Linked DNA regions of Homo sapiens: region 2 is linked to region 1. The links come from fine-mapping of genetic effects on gene expression. Tissue or cell type: lung. Region 1 holds a variant in brackets; the other region holds the start of a gene. All regions are shown on one strand. Distances are from middle to middle.

Region 1 (10,431 bases):
GTCACCTTCTGTCCTGGAATGACAGGACAGGTCGACCCTAATTTCACTCCTCTAAACAAGGTAATGATGGCTTGTGCAGGAAATCTAAATCTGGCCTCAGAGGCAGCCCAGTGATTTTCCAGGTCAAGGGAAAGGGAGAAAGCAAAGATCTGAAGCTCTGTCCTCCTCTCCTGGGTATCTGCCGTCCACAGAGCTGGGGGAAGTCTGCCATCTAGTGGAAAGTAGAGGGCACTGACAGTTACTTGCAATAGTGGTTTCCCAGGACCGCTTGAGCATCAAGCGTTTCTGATCCGGGGGCATAGCTTCCATCAGGGACAGGGTGGACTAGCAGAAGAATATTCAACAACAACAAGTAACATTCAAACCCAATACACAAATGTTTCTTTATATATATAAACTACACATAGTGCCCTATACAAAGTGCTTCTTCATAAAGTAGTGCCAGGTGAAGTGCTAAGTGTTTTAGTTAATAAATCTCATCTCATTTCTACAGTGATTATCAATGTATTCTGCATGATTTTTCCTATACAATGGCAAAAACACAGGGTGGGAAGTATACTTAATCCCTAACACAGTGATTACCATTATACTTTTAAAATTGCTGTACAGAGAATATTTTCCATCGGTTCAGATCCATACAATAATCGATTTCAGTTTATGCTTGTCTTTTGACAACAATTGACATATTCAGGTAACAACATTAAGGGGGCTGGGGGACAGACCAAGTTACTCAGATATATTTGTGCTCTCTCCTTTTGATTTCATTTGATTTCATTTGTTACACTGTTCCAATTTGCTTTAAGTGATTGTTTTTAATTATATTAAAGTAGCACATGCCATGCATATATTTAAAAGCATGGTCTCCTCTTCCGCCCCTTCCCACCTCTAGTCTTGGTCCCTAGAGGTAATGACCTGCAGTTCTGTTAGTTGCTTCTTTTCGTATTTTCCTCCATAATCTCTAAATAAAACGCTCTGCTTCTATTTCCTTGTCTGTCTGTGGTGGATTGACTGCCTTAGTTTGGGTTCTTTCAGAGGCAGATCCTGAAATGGATGATTCAAGGACAGGATGGGAAAGTAAGATGAGGAGAAGGCCATCAGTAAAGGGCAAATCATCACACCAGCTGCCACCATAGGCACCTGCACCAGACCCAGTGTAGAAATGGGAGCCAGTGCGAAACAGAGCTCACGACCACTGGTTTAGAGCTGCTCCTGTCACATGGGCAGCAAGTAAGCTCCAGCACCAAGAGCAACACCAAAGCAGATGCTGGCAATTGCACACAGAGCTGCCTTGTGCAGCCGTGGTCAGGGCCAGGTGTGTGGGCAGGGAACTGCCAGTGTCTGCTACAGCCATCTCACCTGTCGGGTACCCAGGTAAGCAAGAGCCTTGCACACCCCCACCTTCCTCATCCTTCCCTTTTCACCCCACCTCCTCTCTCCTACTGCTCAGCTTCTGATTACATTTGCTTCCTTGTTTACATTCTTCTATAGCTATATTTAGGCCTACAGTTTGATTTTGAAAGCACATTGATGATGTGACTTTGCAGTATTTTTCACTGCCGAGCTAGTGTTCACTATAATTACATTTCTTTTTTTTTTTTTTTGAGACAGGGTCTCGCTCTGTTGCCCAGGCTGGAGTGCAGTGGCACAATCACAGCTCACTGCAGCCTGACCTCCCAGGCTCAAGCAATCCTCCCACCTTAGCTGCTCTCCCCTCAATAGCTGGGACTACAAGCACAGGCCACCATGCCCAGCTAATTTTTATATTTTTCGTACAGATGGGGTTTTGCTACGTTACCAAGGCTGGTCTCAAACTCCTAGCCTCAAGCGATCTGCCCACTTCAGCTTCTCAAAGTGCTGGGATTATATAGGCATGAGCCGCCACACCCAGCCACATTTCGTTTATATTAGAGCTTTTTAATTTTTCCTGAAGTTATTAACTGCCTTTTAATTTTCTTGCACCTTTTGCCCTTGTTTCACATTAGTGTTTTTCCTTGACCTCTTCTGCCAATTAGGGATCAAGTGTTCCATGGAGACTCTTTCTTTTTTTATTATTATTATTTTTTTTTTTTTAATTTTTTTTAAGTGGAGTCTCACTCTGTCACCCAGGCTGGCATGCAGTGGCGCAATCTCAGCTCACTGCAACCTCCACCTCCTGGGTTCAAGCGACTCTCGTGCCTCAGCCTCCCAAGTAGCTGGGATTCCAGGCATGTGCCACCACACCCAGCTAATTTTTGTGTTTTTATTAGAGATGGGGTTTCACCATGTTGGCCAGGATGGTCTCCATCTCCTGACCTTGTGATCCGCCCACCTCAGCCTCCCAAAGTGCTGGGATTACAGGTGTGAGCCACAGTGCCCAGCCCCATGGAGACCCTTTCTATGTAGAGTTTCTCTGCAGGGCCTTGTCTCATACTGTGGAATGTTCCTACAAGGGAATACTACTCTGCAAAACAAAGAATAAATTATTGAGACATGCAACAACACAGATAACTCTGATTGACTTTGCAGAGTGAAAAGCTAGACATTTACATAAAATTCTATGAAATACAAATGAATCTACAGTGATAGAAAGAAAGAAATCAGGCTGGGTGCGGTGGCTCACGCCTGTAATCCCAGCACTTTGGGAGGCCGAGGTGGACAGATCACGAGGTCAGGAGTTCGAGAGCAGCCTGGCCAATATGGTGAAACCCTGTCTCTACCAAAAATACAAAAATTAGCCAGGCATGGTGGCACGCTCCTGTAGTCCCAGCTACTCAGGAGGCTGAGACAGAAGAATCACTTGAACCCAGGAGGCTGAGGTTGCAGTGAGCCGAGATCACACCACTGCACTCCAGCCTGGGCAACAGGGCGAGATTCCGTCTCAAAAAAAAAAAAGAAAGAAAGCAATCAGTGGTTTCTTGATGTACTCAGAAACTGGTATGTTCACCATCTTTTGTTCATGGGTATGTACATATGTCAAAGCTTATGAAATTATATAATTTAAACATGTGCAGTTTATTGTGATTAATTATAATAAATCCAGTTACACTCAATAAAGTGTTGATGATGTCAATGGTACCATGAATAAAATAGAAAGATTATTAGTTAATGCTATGTGAATAAAATAGAAAGAACATTGTTGAACAAACCATTTGACCAATGAATGTTTCTCACTGCCTTATAAAAAGAGTAAGTGAATTATTAAGGCTTAGCAAAGTAAAGAAAGTCTCCCACAGTCTCTGATTGGAATTCCATAAAACAATAGTCGTACATTTTTACTAGACAAAGAAAACATACATATAAAATAGCTAACTTTTCAAACTCCAGCAAAAGTCTCCATTCATTTACTTTTTGTTCGCCTTAATATAGCTTTATTACCTTATAGAACATTTCCCTATATCTTAAGGGGGAACATCTTTACAAAGAGTAAAGCAGGAAGGGAATAAAATCAGGACAAAAACAAAGATCACTAAAGGATGAGCTTTAAACCATGTTCCTCATCTTCTGGTAGAATTCCACCAGATTCTTCTACTTAGAAACTCAAGCACCCAACTCATCAATTTCACCTCTAATTCTACACTTGCAACTTTATCAGCCATGTCTTCTGAGAGCTTGCACTCATATTCACCAACACATCCAAAACCAAAACAGATTTAGAAACAGCTCTAGACTCCTTGCAGAGAGGGAGTCTCACCTTATCATTCTTTTCAGCATTCCAAGTAATTGTACCCTCTCCCATCCTTCCCATCTCCTCCCCAGGCCATTGAAAAGGGTTGAATTTTAAGTACATAGTTGACCCTTCAACCTGGACACCGTTTATTGAACTGTCTGGTTGTGAAACTGCATTGCCACATATCAATATAGTTGTGGGAACTTGGAGATTCAATAGGTATAACAATCTGTTTATGTTAAAACAAACAAAACAGCCATCTCCTTTTATGTGCAGAGCCTACTGCTGTAAGGCACAAGGCTTACTCCTGAGACAGAGTACCAGGAGACAGGAGGCAATTTGAGAGGCTATAGCAAGATAACTGAGTAAAATACTAACTTGTATTTATGTCCCTATATTTTCCCTTTTTTCTCATTTCAGAGCAGGAGTCAGGCCTTTAGCATTTCCTTCCCTTGGTGATTTTTTAAAGTAGAAATCAGAAGTCACTTTCAATCAAAGTCTTTTCTGTCTTTTGCAAACACTGAAGCTACCTGCAGAGAGGATGACAGGGGCCTCAGAGGGAAGAGGAGAGGGATAATTTTAAGAGCAAAGAGAAAAAGAGGTGGGTCGGAGGTTTGGAAGAAGACAAAGGTTAGTGGGTCCCAAGGCTAAGGGAGATCCACATTCTACTCATCACCATTTCAGAATGGAAAGGCCGGACCCCAGACACAGACACTCCATGTCTTCCCAACTCCTCCCATCCCAAGCATGGCACAACTGCTGGAACCAAGGGACCATGCAGGCTAGAACAAAGGGCGCCTCAGCTGTGAGTGGTGTAGACCATGGCCAGTGTCCAAAGGGGCCAACATCCTAGATCATTGGCACAACACTGAGTGGTTAAGGAGCTGGACTTAAGTTGATTTAAATTAAAAAAGAAAAAACCACATTTTTACCATCCCATTTGCTGCAGTAAGATTGATGTGGGGACCCCCTGCAGTACAGCAAAGACTGGCTGGGTGACACATAGCTACAGAAGGCACTGATTACAGGTGCTGGGATTCAGGCCACTTCATCCTGAGCCCGTGGCTGAGATTGTGTGGTAGAATCGGTGTAATCAGATGAGTGTAAACTCATGCTGACTAGGGAAAACTGGGAGTCTATAATAAGCTTAGGTTCGAAGCGTACTTTAGAAAGCTTTAAAATCCCTGGACAAACCAGCCTCTCTTTCTGGAGTAACAAAATACAAATCACTTGTTTGTTATGGTTATCTTGACTTTGTGGAAGTGAATTTAAAACAGGACATTATCAATGAACACAAAACAAAAAATCAAATAAAAGGATTGTTTCCAACATTGTCAAACTTGTGTAAATTAAAAACAAATAAACAAACCAACCAACCCTGGGCAGATACAAAGTGATCAGAGAAGGAAGTGAGGACAGTGGGAGCCTTGTTAGTTTGCTAAGATTAAAATCCTCTGTAATTCTCAGAAAATATCTAGAAAGATTTTAAGGTTTCTAAGTTAATTCTCTTTTTAAAAATTACAATTCTCCCTGGAGGAGGAGAGGCACAGAGAAGCCAATAGACATGCTACCTGGAGAATGGGCCCACGTGTCCAGGTAGCAGTAAGCTATTCTGTCTGTGATGGACATAACAGTTCCCAGAAACTGAGGTATTTTCCATCATTTCCAGTGATACTACCCCAAGTGTCCCCCACCCCCCGAGGAGAGACATTTGAATCTTATTTAGGGAATACCCCCAAGAAACTGCTGCTATTGCAGAACTAGAAAGCAAGAAATGGAGAAATGAATGATGATGTGGCTCCCTCAGAGTCCCCTCTGCTTCCTGGATTGCTGCCTCCCTGGGCTTCCTCTCCTGCAGCCACACGGGCCTCCTGCAGGTTCCTCCCTCCTGTGGCCACTGCATCTGCTTCCCTCTGCTGCCTGGATGCTCTTTCCAGACTCAGTATAGAGCATTCCTGCACCACCTTCAAACAGCACCTCCTCAATAAGGCCTTCTCTATCAATCTCTGTACAACTGCAGCCCTGGCCACAGCCCCAGCTCTCCCTTCTGCACTTAGCACCATCTGACACACTACATGTTTTACTTAATAGTTTATCATCTGTCTCTCCCCACTAGACAAGAAGTACTGAGTCTTTTGTTCAATGTTGTGACCTCAGCCCACATTGGCTGCTGTATTAGTCCATTTTCACACTGCTGATAAAGACATACCTGAGACTGGGAAGAAAAAGAGGTTTCAATGGACTTACAGTTCCACATGGCAGGGGAGGCCTCAAAATCATGGAGGGAGGCAAAAGGCACTTCTTACATGGCAGCGGCAAGATAAAATGAGGAAGAATCAAAAGTGGAAACCCCTGATAAACCCATCAGATCTTGTGAGACTTATTCACTATCACAAGAAAAGCATGGGAAAGACCTGCCTCCATGATTCAATTATCTCCCCCTGGGTACCTCCCACAACATGTGGGAATTCTGGGAGATATAATTCCAGTTGAGATTTTGGTGGGGACACAGCCAAACCATATCATTCCACCCCTGGCCCTCCAAATCTCATGTCCTCACATTTCAAAACCAATCATGCCTCCACCAGTTCCCCAAAGTCTTAACTCATTTCATCATTAACCCCAAAAGTCCACAGTCCAAAGTCTCATCTGAGACAAAGGAAGTCCCTTCCACCTATGAGCCTGTAAAATCAAAAGCAAGCAGTTACTTCCTAGATACAGTGGGGATACAGTTATTGGGTAAATACAGCCATTCCCAGTGGGAGAAATTGGCCAAAACAAAGGGGTTACAGGGCCCATGCAAGTCCGAAATCCAGCAGGGCAGTCAAATTTTACAGTTCCAAAATGATTTCCTTTGACTCCAGGTCTCACATCCAGGTCATGCTGATGCAAGAGGTGGGTTCCCTTGATCTTGGGCAGCTCTGCCCCTGTGGCTTTGCAGGGTACAGCTTTTCTTCCGGCTGCTTTCATGGGCTCGTGTTGAGTGTCTGCAGCTTTTCCAGGCACACAGTACAAGCCGTCTGTGGATCTACCATTCTGGGGTCTGGAGGATGGTGGCCCTCTTCTCACAGCTCCACTGCGCAGTGTCCTAGTAGGGACACTGTATAGGGGCTCCAACCCCACGTTTCCCTTCTGCACTGCCCTAGCAGAGGTTCTCCATGAGGGCCCAGCCCCTGCAGCAAACTGTTGCCTGGGCATCCAGGCGTTTCCATACATCTTCTGAAATCTAGGTGAAGGTTCCCAAACCTCAGTGCTTGACCTCTTTACACCCACAGGCTCAACACCACATGGAAGCTGCCAAGGCTTGGGATTCCACCCTCTGAAGCCACAGCCTGAGCTGTACATTGACTCTTTTCAGCCACGGCTGGGACACAGGGCACCAAGTCCCTAGGCTGCACACAGCATGGGGACCCTGGGCCTGGCCCACAAAACCACTTTTTCCTCCTGGGCCTCTGGGCCTGTGATGGGAGGGGCTGCCATAAAGTCTCTGACATGGCCTGGAGACATTTTCTCCACGGTCTTGGGGATTAACATTAACAGCTCCTTGCTACTTAAGCAAATTTCTACAGCCAGGTTGAATTTCTCCCCAGAAAATGGATTTTTCCTTTCTGTTGCATAGTCAGGCTGCAAATTTTCCAAACTTTTATGCTGTGCTTCCCTTATAAAACTGAATGCCTTTAACAGTACCCAAGTCACCTCTTGAAGGCTTTGCTGCTTAGAAATTTCTTTTGCCAGATACCCTAAATTATCTCTCTCAAGTTCAAAGATCCACAAATCTCTAGGGCAGGGGCAAAACGCCCCCAGTCTCTTTGCTAAAACATAACAAGAGTCAACTTTGCTCCATTCCTAACAAGGTCCTCATCTCCATCCTAAATCACCTCAGCCTGGATTTTATTGTCCACATTGCTATCAGCATTTTGGGCTAAGCCATTCAACAACTCTCTAGGAAGTTCAGAACTTTCTCACGTTTTCTTGCCTTCTTCTGAGCCCTCCAATCTGTTCCAATCTCTGCCTGTTACCCAGTTCCAAAGTCACTTCCACATTTTCAGGTATCTTTTCAGCAACGCCCCACTTTACGGGTACCAATTTACTGTATTAGTCCATTTTCACATTGCTGATAAAGACATATCCAAGACTGCACAATTTACAAAAGAAGCCTCATAATCATGGCAGAAGGCAAGGAGGAGCAAGTCACATCTTACATGGATGGCAGCAGGCAAAGAGAGAGAGAGTTTGTGCAGGGAAACTCCTGTTTTTAAAACCATCAGATCTCATGAGACTCATTCACTATCATGAGAAGAGTGCAGGAAAGACCCACCCCCATAATTCATTCACCTCCCACCAGTTCCTTCCATGACATGTGGGAATTGTGGGAGTTACAATTCAAGATGGGATTTGGATGGGGATAAAGCCAAGCCATAACAGGTGCCTACTAAATGCACACTGCAAGAACAAATGAGTGAGTGAATGCTGGTGGAATAAATGCTGAAGTGGCCTGGGGTTAGTGGCTGTGGCTTAGTGTCTGGGTATAGGATTCTGGGGCCCACTGACAATCATCTTTGTTTACACTGTGGTCAGAAAGCTGGTCAGCTTGGACTTGAGCACAGTGGAAGGGGCTAGGCTGGGAGAACATCATAGGATGTG[C/T]TCTCCCAGAGAGTGGCCTAAATGACTTCAGACTGCTCCACATGTCTCCCAATGAGAGCATATGGCAAAGGAGGGTTGCTCCCTCCACAGTATTTTTACTCCTTTGGTGCTCTTTTCAAAAAAGGAAGTTCCATGAGAACAAAAGGGCTGGCAAAGTTCCTATTGGGGGATGAGGAAGCCATGCCACATTTTTACAAATGCAACATAATGCCAAGCTCAAAGACAAAATACTGTAAAGTACAATCTCTGCTTGCATAAATTTATTCTCTTGACTGGGAGACAAGACTAATAGGTGAGAAACAAATATGGCAGCATTTTTCTAACAAAGATTCCCTGAGAACAGAGGAGCAGATGCTGGCAATTGCACACAGAGCTGCCTTGTGCAGCTGTGGACAGGGACAGGTGTGTGGGCAGGGAACTGCCAGTGTCTGCTACAGCCATCTCACCTGTCAGGTATCCAGGTAAGCAAGAAGCTTACAGAAATAACTGATAAGTTATTTCTGAAGTCTGGATAGTATTGGAGTTGAAATGCAGAATTTCTCTGCAGTCTTATGTTTTAATTTTTAAATCAAATTTTGGATGTAATCTGCATTATGAAATTTTAAAAAATTACTTACCAGTGAATTCAACTTAGAATTTTTTCCCACAATTTCAAGACAAACTGATACTCCACGGCAAAATGAGCCTGGCCAATCCTGAGGCTCTGGGTCCCCCTTGGTACTGTGAACCCCAGGGCTGTAACTCTAATGGGTAAATGTGGAATTTTGATATCACAAAAAATATCACCTTGTGTCAAAATGCATCATACAGACAATATCTACAAGGGCTGCTCAGGAAAGGCCAAAATGTTTGGAAAGACTACATGGAGCCAGCTGTAAAAAGCATGATTCAAACTGGTGCCAAACATCTAAGCTAGCTAAGCTGTAGGATACAATTTTTGCTTTATTTATAATTTTTTTTTTTCAATTAGGAAACTGAGACTTAAGAATTTTCTCTAAAAAAAATAAAAACTGGAAAACAAGTAATTTTAGAAACAAATATATATTTTTGATAGAAACTGTAAGTAAATATTCAGTACTACCAGAAATATACTATCTTCAACTCTCGGCTTTTTTCCAAAAGATACAGAATCATTTTTTGGAAAAGATACAAGATGTACAGACAAATCACATTCATACCTTACAATTTAAATTCATAATGAACAATGAATATTTTCATATTTTCCAGAAGTTTGAAATTTCAAAGTTGTTAGCAAAATTATTCATTTCCATAATTTTTACGAGTAAAAATAGAAAGAGCTGATCATGTACCTTAATATTGTCACTTTATATATTACTCAAAAGTACAAATAACCCTAAAAGTAGAATCCCAGGCTTATCATATTATAAAAATACTGAGACATTTATCAAACATAACTAATATAAATGAAACTACATTTTTAAAAATGTTTCACAAACACCAGTCCATCTTTCTCTTTGGTTCAGAAAATAAAAGAGGTAGGTTCAAATAAAGAAAATGCCTATTACATCATTAGATTTTCATTAAAATGCTGGAAATTTATAACAGAAATTATTAGAAGTGAAATGAGTTTAAGAACTAAATTAAAAACTGATAATAACTTCAACTAGTAAATATTTTTCTAAGTTCTAATCACACAAATAAGAAAAGATAGTTGACTATAAAAATGGCTTTAGTAAAATAAAAAAATGCTCTCATTATTATAAATTAAGTCTCCTATATCCTAACATGTTCCTAAAACTTGGGGCAAGAGAGAATATGAATGTATATGTTTACAAATTGGGCCTTTCATTTAAATATAGGTATCTAATGTATAAGAGTAATACATACTACTATTAATATGTATCTCTCACCTTTGTGCTGCCCATATTGAAAACAGCAAGTTCAAAGATATTCAACAGTGAGGGAGAAATAAGCACATCATTTGCTCATGATCAATCCACTTCATGCAATTAAAAAAGAAATTTCAGGTTACTAAGAATGGTCCCAAGAAGTCTTCCTGACTAAAACGGAATCTGATTCAAAAGGTAGGAAACAAAGGACAAAGGAAAACAAAGATGCTCTGCAGAAGCTGATACAAGTCAAAGGATTTCGTTTCCTGCTGCTTTTCAAAGCAATGGCAG
Region 2 (10,431 bases), 70 kb after region 1:
TACTAGAAAATACAAAAGTTAACCAGGTGTGGTGGCATGTGCCTGTAATCTCAGCTGCTTGGGAGGCTGAGGCACAAGAATCGCTTGAATCCAGGAAGCAGAGGCTGCAGTGAGCCGAGATCGCACCACTGCACTCCAGCCTTGGTGATAGAGCAAGATTCTGTCTCCAGAAAAAAAAAAAAAAAGCAATATTAATGAAATAAAAATGAAATGAACCCTCTTTGTTAACAGAGGAATTACTTAATGGAGTGAAATCCTGATTCCACTCAATGCAATAAACATTTGCTAAGCTACTATTCTTCTATGTGACTATTTTTTCTGTGATTGTAAATGTAAAAACTTAAAGACAGAATTAAAAAAATCATAGAATGTAAGAGTTAGAATGGCCCTTAAATCAGGTTACCAGTCCACCCACTCCTCTAACATTGGGTGATCATTCAGCATACACTTCATACCCATGGGCACAGAGGTTCCTCAAGAAGTTCACCAGCTAGTAAATGGGATACCACATTTTAAAGGGTTTTTTAACATGAACTTTCATATTCTGCAACATATGACCTTGTTAAAAGCTCTGTCCAGGATGCAGGCAAGATATCTGCATTTTAAGAATAAGAAAGTAAAGCTCCAGTAAGGCTCAAACTTGACAAGGATTACACGGTCAATTTACACCAAGGACGGAACTCTCTTGTAGCTTGCTGCTTCCCTTCTTGCTCTTGATAATTGTCCTAGTCCAACTGGGCTGCTATGACAAAAATACTATTGGCTTACTTAAAAAATAAGCATTGATTTCTTGCAGTTCCAGACACTGGAAGTCCTAGATCGAAGTGCTAGGAGATTTACTGTCTAGTGAGGACCCACTTTCCGGTTCCATGGACCACTGTTTTCTCACTGTGTCCTCACATGGTGGAAGGGGCAAGGAAGGTCTTCCAGGTCACTTTTATACAAGCACTAATCCCATTCATGAAGGCTCCACAGGAAGAAAGAAGATGGGGGTAGAAGGAGGAAGACAAGAGGGAGAAGGAGGTGCGTAAAGAGAAAATAACTGAAGACTTTTAAAAGGAAATAGGATTACTAGACAAGTATAAGAGAATTAGTAATGGTTAAATACTGTATCTCCTTGTTCTCACACTACATTCTACTCTCAGTCTATACCCTTATACTACTGAGTCCTAGGAGAACTTAATGTGAATTTTCTCTAATTTTTAACTTTAATTTTTCACTAATTTCATAGTGAGGAGATTTGGAACATACAGAAAAGAAAGGTCATACCAGAAAAAAAAATGTAGCGCTTTCACTTCCAATTGGTTCTTAATTTTGTCTCAGGACTTGCCTTGAATTCTTTTCTCTTCCCTGGATAATTCTGGAACACTTAGTAATGGTTAGCTATTATATTCCTTATACCTATTTCTACATTCTACTCTTATTTCTACATTCTTTCCATCTAAAATCTAAAGAAACTTAAACAGAAATTTGTTCTCTTCTAAATGCTCAATTCATTACAAATGCTTGGAAACACGGAGATGAGATCAAATCAGATGAAAATTTATAGAGATTTTGCTTCAAGCTGAGTATTTGGCTTAGATACAAACTACTACCTTGAAACTTTCCACCGAAGAGTCACCCCACAGTTCTCATTTCTATGCTCAAGTAGCCAATGTCCTCACTCCTTGACATTACATAAACCCCTGACATGCCTCTGAAATTTTCTCCCATAAAGGTTGACTGTGTAATCCTAATTCTATCCCATGTGTGATGGTTAATTTTATGTATCAACTCGTCTGGACTAAGGGATGCCCAGATAACTGGTAAAACATGATTTCTGGGTGTGTCTGTGAGGATGTCTCTGGAGGAGGGTAGCATTTGAATCAGTAAACCAATTAAAGAAGACTGCCCTCACCAAATGGGTAGGCATAATGCAATCCTGTGGAGGATGTGAATAGAACCAAAAGGCAAAGCAAGTGCTACGTTTTGTTTGTCCCCACAAAAACTCATGTTGAAGTCTGATCCCTGATGTGGCCGTGTTGGGAGGAGGGACCTAGCAGGAGGTGTCAGGGTTACGGAGGCAGATCCCTCATGAATGGCTTGGTGTCATTCTTGCAGTAGTGAGTGAGTTCTCTCTCTCATGAGACTGAATTAGTTCCCTCAGTAATGGATCAGTTCCCTCGAGGCTGGGTTGCTATAAAGCCAGGACACCCCTCGGATTTTGCTTCTTCACACATGTCCACTTCCACTTTGACTTTCCACCATGTTGTGACACAGCAGGAAAGCCCTCCCCAGGAGTCCAGCAGATGCCAGCACCACGCTTCTTAAACTTCCCAGCCTGCGGAACTGTGAGCTAAATAAATGTCTTTTCTTTATAAATTACCCTGTCTCAGATATTCCACTATAGCAACACTAAATGGACTAAGACAGGAAATGAAAAGGAATTTCACCTGCAGAATAGGAGACTTTACAAAGACTGATACCCTGAATGAGCGAGGATGTGGAGAAGCAAGCACTGTCAGTCAAAAGAGTGAAAATGGGTCTAAGGTTTCCGAAAGGCAATACGTATCCCAGTTTAAAATGTGTGTTACCTTCAGACTCAGCAATGTCCACTCCTCAAAATTTATCTTACGAAAGTAACTGGACCAGAATGAGAAAATGAATACAAAGGACATCCATTGCAATTTCACTTACAATCGTTTTTAAACTATCAATAAAGTAAAAGGTGATTTAAAAAGAATTGGTAACATATACTATGACACAAACATATAACAGAATATGATGCAGTTACGTAAAAATGGTGATACAGCAGCAATTCTCAAGCTTTTTGATCTCAGGATCCCTTTACAATCTTAAAAATCATTGAGCACTCCAAAGAGCTTTTGTATATTGTAGGGACCATGGAGTTGTACCACTGAGATCTCCCTTCAAAGGCACCTACTGTGAGGAACACAGTTGACTTCCACTCTCTAGCCTCTAACCCTGGCATCTGCTGATGCACTGCAGCAAGGTCGTCCCTTTCCTGGGCTGCTTCCAGCCAATGATTGGACATGGTGGGGAACTCCAACTGGGCCATTTCTGGGACAATCAGCACAAAGTACCAAAAGTTGGTTCCTTCAAAGTATGAATAAAATACACAAAACTTTGGCAAGATTGAAGGGGAGAAAAGGATAGATATGAGGAATGAAATAGAGAACCTACCTACAGATTCAGTCAGAAGTGTTATAAAATCATCGGTGAGTATTATGAACCTTGGACAGAACAGGCAGTTTCAAAAAAAATTGTAACTTACTAAATCTGACTCTAGAAGAAACAGTAAACTGAAGAGGCCTATAACTACCAAAGACATTAAAAGAGAAGTGAAATATAACTATATAACAGTTGTTGGCCCTCATAGTAACCTAATCACTTTCCCTCTTTGGATAAGAGAATGCCAGTGTCAGGGAACGCTTCAACAGGGTTGGAGAAGTTCCACATATCTCCACCCTACTAAAGGGGCAGAAGTTCAGGGGCACAGTTAAGATGACTCAGAGAAAATGAAATTGCTCAGTCGCAGGTCAAGTCAACCCTTCAGATCAATTTATGTACCTAGGGCATTAACCTAGGAATGTCTTAAACAATGGAATGCCGCCATTCCTTCTCAACAGGAAGTGGGGGAAACACGCGATTGGTTTTCAAACAGTTTTCAAACAGTAGACAATACACATAGCTGCTGTAACAAAGCAGCTTCGAAAGAGATCGAATGTGTGCGCCTTTATACAAAACTTGGGACCCACTGAAGTCTGACAGCTAAAACGGATTACATGTCTGCAAGGTATTAAAACAGAAAACAAAGAACCTGGGATGGATTCAGGACAAAAGTGTCTTAAAAATTTAACAGTGCCCGTGGGCCAGAGTGTCCACAACACTCATTTTATCTGGACAAATACCAGTAGACTTTCGTATTATGACCCACTTCTGTTACCGGGGTCGCCGGTCGCGGCCCCACGCCCGAGTTTCTGAAGCCACCGGAGCGCTGGGCGCCACAGTTCCTCCTTCCTCTCCTGGCAACGCCTCAAGCCGCCGCCCTCCTCGGTCCTCGCAGTGTCCCCAGCGCCCGCAGCCCTCCCTACGCTCAGGCGGCGCCCCGGCGGCGACCCACCTCCTCGGCGTCCTGGCCCAGAGGGATGCCCAGGTTCCTGAGCCCCTCCTGCAGCTCGCCGATGTCCACCACTCCGTCCCCATTGCGGTCCAGTGCCTGGAAGAGGGTCTCGTAGCGCGTCGGCTGCTCCGCGTCCTGGCAGGCCGCGGTGGGCAGCACGAAGTCCCGCAGCCAGCGCAACATGGTCCCAGAGGCGCAGGCGGCCTGGCCGAGGAAGTCACGGGAGATCGAGGGCTGCGGGGCGAGACCGGGACCAGCGCGAGGCCGGGCTGGGCGGGGCGCGCGGCGCAACAGCGTTTGGGGCGCCGTCGGGGTTGCGGCTGCGGCGCGCAGGGCGCAGGGCGCAGGAGCGGAGACCCCACCCGAGCCCGCGCGGAGCGCAGGGTGTGGCCGTCCCGCCGCTGCTGGGGAGGAGCTCGCCGCGCTGGCCTCGGCGGCACTGGCCGGGCCCGCCTCCAGAGAGCCGGAAGTGAGGGAGCTGGGAGCTGGGTCTCGGGAGGTGCTGTGCGGACCCGGGGTCGACCTCTGCCCAGTTGCCAGTCCCGCTGTCAGCATGCGGGTCCGAGGAAGAGGCCCCCAGCAGGTCCAGGGCTGCAGCGTCAGCGCGTCGGTGGCTTGGGAGCGGGGTCTTGAAGACTGGTTACTCCACTTAAAGACCCTCTCGGGCCGGAGCCTTGGCGGTCAGCCCAGAGCTGCTTCTCTCTGCCTGGAAACTGGGCCATGGAGGGCATTGTCTCTCACGGATGTCTAATTTTTTCGTGGTTGCACACCTGGGATGGCGATTCTGCTTTAAAAAGCAGAGAGTTAAATCCTAAAGCATCTATTGGAGCAATTATAAAACAAAAAGGAGAAACTCCTGGATTTGTTGCAGAAAAGATCAACAGCCATCTGCGTGGGCAACGGGGAAAAGAAGGACTAGTTTGGTAGGCAGCTTAGCTAGGATTTGCCCGTGATTAAGCGTATAGAGTGTCTGCCAGCTGCACTTATCAGAAAAAACCACAGCGCCCTCCTCCTTCTCAAGATGGGTGCAGTTCCGAGGTTTGGAGCTTATTACTCAGGCAAGACAGAACTTATTACTGCCTAGCATGGAATAACGGAAGGAACATTGGACTTAACAGAGAAAGTACCTAATCCTTCAGGTGTGACATAGCGTCTCCGGGTAGTCTCTCATCAGTAAAATGAGAATATAAATATCTGCCTTCACAACAAAGTTGTATATTAGGTGTGAAAGGTCTTAATTCTCTAAGGCGCCAATCAAATGAGATATCATTAATTGTAATAATCCTGTTCATTCACAGCTGCGTAAGAGGAACTATTGTTGTACTGCTGTTTGCAGAAAAGAAGATACCTCTGTACTTGTAAATTAGGGTGTCTCACATCTTCTGAATCACTACACAGAAATCAGTTCCAACAACAGCCAGGAACTCAGACCCTGAACTTACCTCTCCTCATATCATTTTGTATGTTTAAGATATGTATGAATCTAGAATTTGTAAATTAAGGGCTGCCTGCTTAGTAAAATCATCTTGAAACTGATTTATCTTTTTATATTACTTCCAACTTCCAGTCTTATTAAGAATCATTGCCTTCCTTTGGAACTGCCTTCAAACTTCAAATTTTCTCTGTCCTTGAAAACCTCTTTTAATCTCTACTCTGAATACTCTGTACTTGAAGAGAGGTTGCTTGAACTAGTCATCTTACACTTACATGCTTTCATTTTACTTTTTATTTATTTCTTTTTTTTTTTTTTTTTTCTTTGAGACAGTCTAGCTCTGTCGCCCAGGCTGGAATGCAGTGGCACAATCTCAACTCACTGCAACCTCCGCCTCCTGGGTTCAAGCTATTCTCCTGCCTCAGCCTCCTGAGTAGCTGGGGCTACAGGCTATTTTACTTTTTTAAAAAAGTAATACTTAGAAAAATTACCTGTCAGCGTTTTTGCTGAGAAAATTATCTTCACACCAAAACTTTTACTTGAGGGTTTATAGCAGTTCTATTCATAACTGTCAAGCGCAGAAACAAAATGTTCTTTAACGGGTGAACTGGTAAACAACCTGTGTTGCATTCATACAGTGAGATAGTAATTAGCAATAAAAAGGAATGAATTACTGATACCTGTCAACAATGACATTCTGGAAAAGGCAAAACTATAGGGACAGAAAACAAATCAGTAGTTACCAGTTGTGACTAGCGGGAAGGGAATTGATGACAAAAGAGCATCAGAAGGCTTGTGGGGGTGATGGAGCTATTTTACATCTTGCTTTTGGTGGTAGTGGTTACACAACTGCATGTGTGTGCCAGCAGAACTGCACACTAACATGGGTTAATTTACTCTGGGATATCAATAAATCTGACTTAAGCATGAGTAAAATGGAATAAAAATTCTCAAAAGATCAGTGTGAACATCAAAACAGTTTATGAATAGTTATGAAGTATGGGCCACACACCAGCAGCATTGGTGTCACATCAGTGTTACTGTGAAAATCAAAGCGTTTATGAAGTGTGGGCCACAGACCAGCAGCATCAGTGTCACTTGGGAGCTTGTCAGAAATAATCTCAGGCCTGCCCAAGCCCACTAAGTAAGAATTGCACTTATACAAGAACCCTGGATGAGCATTTCATAAAGTTTGAAAAGCACAGCTAGTATGAAGCAAACCACTCGAAGTGCAACCTGTTACCTGTCTGCAATGAGTCAGACATTGAGAGGAAGGATTTAGAAACTTTATAGCAATTTGATAAAGTAATTTTGTTATATCTAATAATAAAACTCAGAGCTTGTCTTTTTAATTTCAATTTTCTAGTATTGCATTTTTACTGTATTTTACGACACTATGTCTGCAAGGAATCGAGATAACACCATGAAGATAAAAGGTGTAATTAACACTAGCAACTTCCTGCATAAGAGAAGAAACCTTTACATGGACATTTACACATCTGGACGAAAGAAGGCACCCCTGCTTAATTCTACTGGCAATTCCCAAAGACCAGTGGTTCCTAGAGGGCAGTAGTAGAAACCCAGAATTCACACTTCCTTAATTCATTTCCTTGGTCAGAACAGAAGTCTAGGGTTCAGCCCAATTTAGCTACTTCTATTGTCCCCAACTTCTGGCCTTCTAATGTACTACCATTTTCCACTGGAATAACCTTCAGACTTGACCAGTTTCAGTCCTTGAAGACCTCTTTCAGCACCTACTTTGGAATCTTTTCATAATCATTCTGGATTTGGCTAGTTTTAGTTGATAAACACATTTCTTCTTTCTATCCACTGAATCACTTACTTATTGTGTAGTGCTAATAAGACCAAAGAATCTGCCTCTCCACAAGGAACAATTCTATTTCAAAATCCTTCAAGAATATTCAGAAAGGAAAAAAAGATCCTGGTCATTGCTCCCTCAAATTTGAGTAATCACAGCTTAGGCTCTGTAAGAGAATTTGATTGGTTCAGTGTAAAGCCATAACCATTACTGGAAGGATAATTTTTTTTCATTGTACTTTAAGTTCTGGGATACATGTGCAGAATGTGCAGGTTTGTTACATAGGTATAAATGTGCCATGGTGGTTTGCTGCACCCATCAACCCATCACCTACATTAGGTATGTCTCCTAATGCTATCCCTCCCCTCCCCACTCCCTCCCCTCCCCACCCCCAACAGGCCCCGGCATGTGATGTTCTCCTCCCTGTGTCCATGTGTTCTCATTGTTCAACTCCCACTTATGACTGAGAACATGCGGTGTTTGGTTTTCTGTTCCTGTGTTAGTTTGCTGAGAATGATGGCTTTCAGCATCATCCATGTCACTACAAAGGACATGAACTCATCCTTTTTTATGGCTGCATACTATTCCATGGTATATATGTGCCACATTTTCTTTATCCATTCTATCACTGATGGGCATTTGGGTTGGGTCCAAGTCTTTGCTGTTGTGAATAGTGGTGCAATAAACGTGCATGTGAATGATTTATAATCCTTTGGATATATACACCCAGTAATGGGATTGCTGGGTCAAATGGTATTTCTGGTTCTAGATCCTTGAGGAATCACCACACTGTCTTCCACAACGGTTGAACTAATTTACATTCCCACCACCAGTGTAAAAGCGTTCCTATTTCTCCACATCCTCTCCAGCATCTGTTGTTTCCTGACTTTTTAATGTTCACCAATCTGAGTGGTGTGAGATGGTATCTCATTGTGGTTTTGATTTGCATTTCTCTAATGAACAGTGATGATGAGATTTTCTTCGTATGTTTCTTGGTTGCATAAATGTCTTCTTTTGAGAAGTATCTATTCATATCCTTTGCCCAGTTTTTGATGGGGTTGTTTGTTTTTTTCTTGTAGATTTGTTTAAGTTCCTTGTAGATTCTGGATATTAGCCCTTTGTCAGATGGATAGATTGTAAAAATTTTCTCCCATTCTGTATGTTGCCTGGTCACTCTGATGATAGTTTCTTTTTCTGTGCAGAAGCTCTTTAGTTTAATTAGATCCCATTTGTCAATTTTGGCTTGTGTCACAATTGCTTTTGGTGTTTTAGTCATGAAGCCTTTGCCCATGCCTATGTCCTGAATGGTATTGCCTAGGTTTTCTTCTAGGGTTTTTATGGTTTTAGGTCTTATGTTTAAGTCTTTAATCCATCTTGAATTAATTTTTGTATAAGGTGTAAGGAAGGGGTCCTGTTTCAGTTTTCTGCATATGGCTAGCCAGTTTTCCCAACACCATCTATTAAATGGGGAATCCTTTCCCCATTGCTTGTTTTTATCAGGCTTGTCAAAGCTCAGATGGTTGTAGATGTGTGGCATTATTTCTGTGGACTCTGTTCTGTTCCATTGGTCTATATCTCTGTTTTGGTACCAGTGCCATGCTGTTTTGGTTACTGTAGCCTTGTAGTGTAGTTAAAAGTCAGGTAAAGTGATGCCTCCAGCTTTTCTCTTTTTACTTAAGATTTTCTTGGCTATACGGGCTCTTTTTTGGTTCCATATCAAATTTAAAATAGTTTTTTCTAATTCTGTGAAGAAAGTCAATGGTAGCTTGATGGGATTAGCATTGAATCTATAAATTACTTTGGGCAGTATGGCCATTTTCATGATATTGATTCTTCCTATCCATGAGCATGGAATGTTTTTCCATTTGTTTGTGTTGTCTCTTATTTCCTTGGCATTGGTGTAATTCTCCTTGAAGATATCTTTCACATCCCTTGTAAGTTGTATTCCTAGGTTTTTTATTCTGTTGGTAGCAGTTGTGAATGGGAGTTCACTCATGATTTGTCTCTCTGTTTCTTATTGGTGTATAGAAATGCTAGTGATTTTTGCACATTGATTTTGTACCCTGAGACTTTGCTTGAAGTTGCTTATCAGCTTAAGGAGTTTTTGGGCTGAGACAATGGGGTTTTCTAAATATACAATCATGTCATCTGCAAACAGAGATAATTTGACTTCCCCTCTTCCTATTTGAATATCCTTTATTTCTTTCTTTTGCCTGATTGCCCTGGCCAGAACTTCCAATACTATGTTGAATAGGAGTGGTGAGAAAGGGCATCCTTGTCTTGTGCCAGTTGTCAAAGGGAATGCTTTCAGCTTTTGCCCATTCAGTATGATATTGGCTGTGGGTTTCTCATAAATAGCTCTTATTATTTTGAGATACGTTTCATCAGTACCTAGTTTATTGAGAGTTTTTAGCATGAATCGGCTGTTGAATTTTATCAAAGGCCTTTTCTGCATCTATTGAAATAATCATGTGGCTTTTGTCATTGGTTCTGTTTATGTGATGAATTACGTTTATTGATTTCTGTATGTGGAACCAGCCTTGCATCCCAGGGATGAAGCCAACTTGATCATGGTGGATAAGCTTTTTGATTTGCTGCTGGATTCAGTTTGCCAATATTTTATTGAGGATTTTTTCATCGAAGTTCATCAGGGATATTGACCTGAAATTTTCTTTCTGTGTTGTGTCTCTGCCAGGTTTTGGTATCAGTATGATGCTGGCCTCATAAAATGAGTTAGAGAAGAGTCTCTTTTTTTCCATTGTTTGGAATAGTTTCTGAAGGAATGGTACCAGTTCCTCCTTCTACCTCTGGTAGAGTTTGGCTGTGAATCCATCTGGTTCTGTGCTATTTTTTTTTTTTAGTTTGTAGGCTATTAATTATTGCCTCAATTTCAGAACTTGTTATTGGTAGTATTCAGGGAATCGACTTCTTCCTGGCTTAGTCTTGGGAGAGAGTATGTGTCCAGGAATTTACCCATTTCTTCTAGATTTTCTAGTTTATTTGCATAGAGGTGTTTATAGTATTCTCTTAAGGTAGTTTGTATTTCTGTGGGATCAG

What was found. PIP is the estimated chance that this variant, and not a neighbour inherited with it, causes the effect. A credible set is the group of variants that fine-mapping cannot tell apart.
Region 2: SLC25A24 starts here. The variant in region 1 is the best candidate, but not a certain one, in a credible set for the expression of SLC25A24 in lung (TOPMed, PIP 0.65).

What each region holds. Positions count from the first base shown.
Region 1 is chr1:108,125,508-108,135,938 of GRCh38, forward strand. It overlaps SLC25A24 (solute carrier family 25 member 24), which reads right to left. Exons shown (of 10, transcript NM_013386.5): 10 at 8,536-10,431. Among named protein-coding and RNA genes, the nearest start is that of LINC02785, 66 kb to the left of the region's middle. RefSeq lists a silencer at 223-362. The variant C/T (reference allele first, on the strand shown) is at 8,291.
Region 2 is chr1:108,195,833-108,206,263 of GRCh38, forward strand. SLC25A24 (solute carrier family 25 member 24) reads right to left here and starts at 4,511. Exons shown (of 10, transcript NM_013386.5): 1 at 4,124-4,511. The coding sequence starts at 4,306. RefSeq lists a silencer at 4,295-4,634 and an enhancer at 4,435-4,729.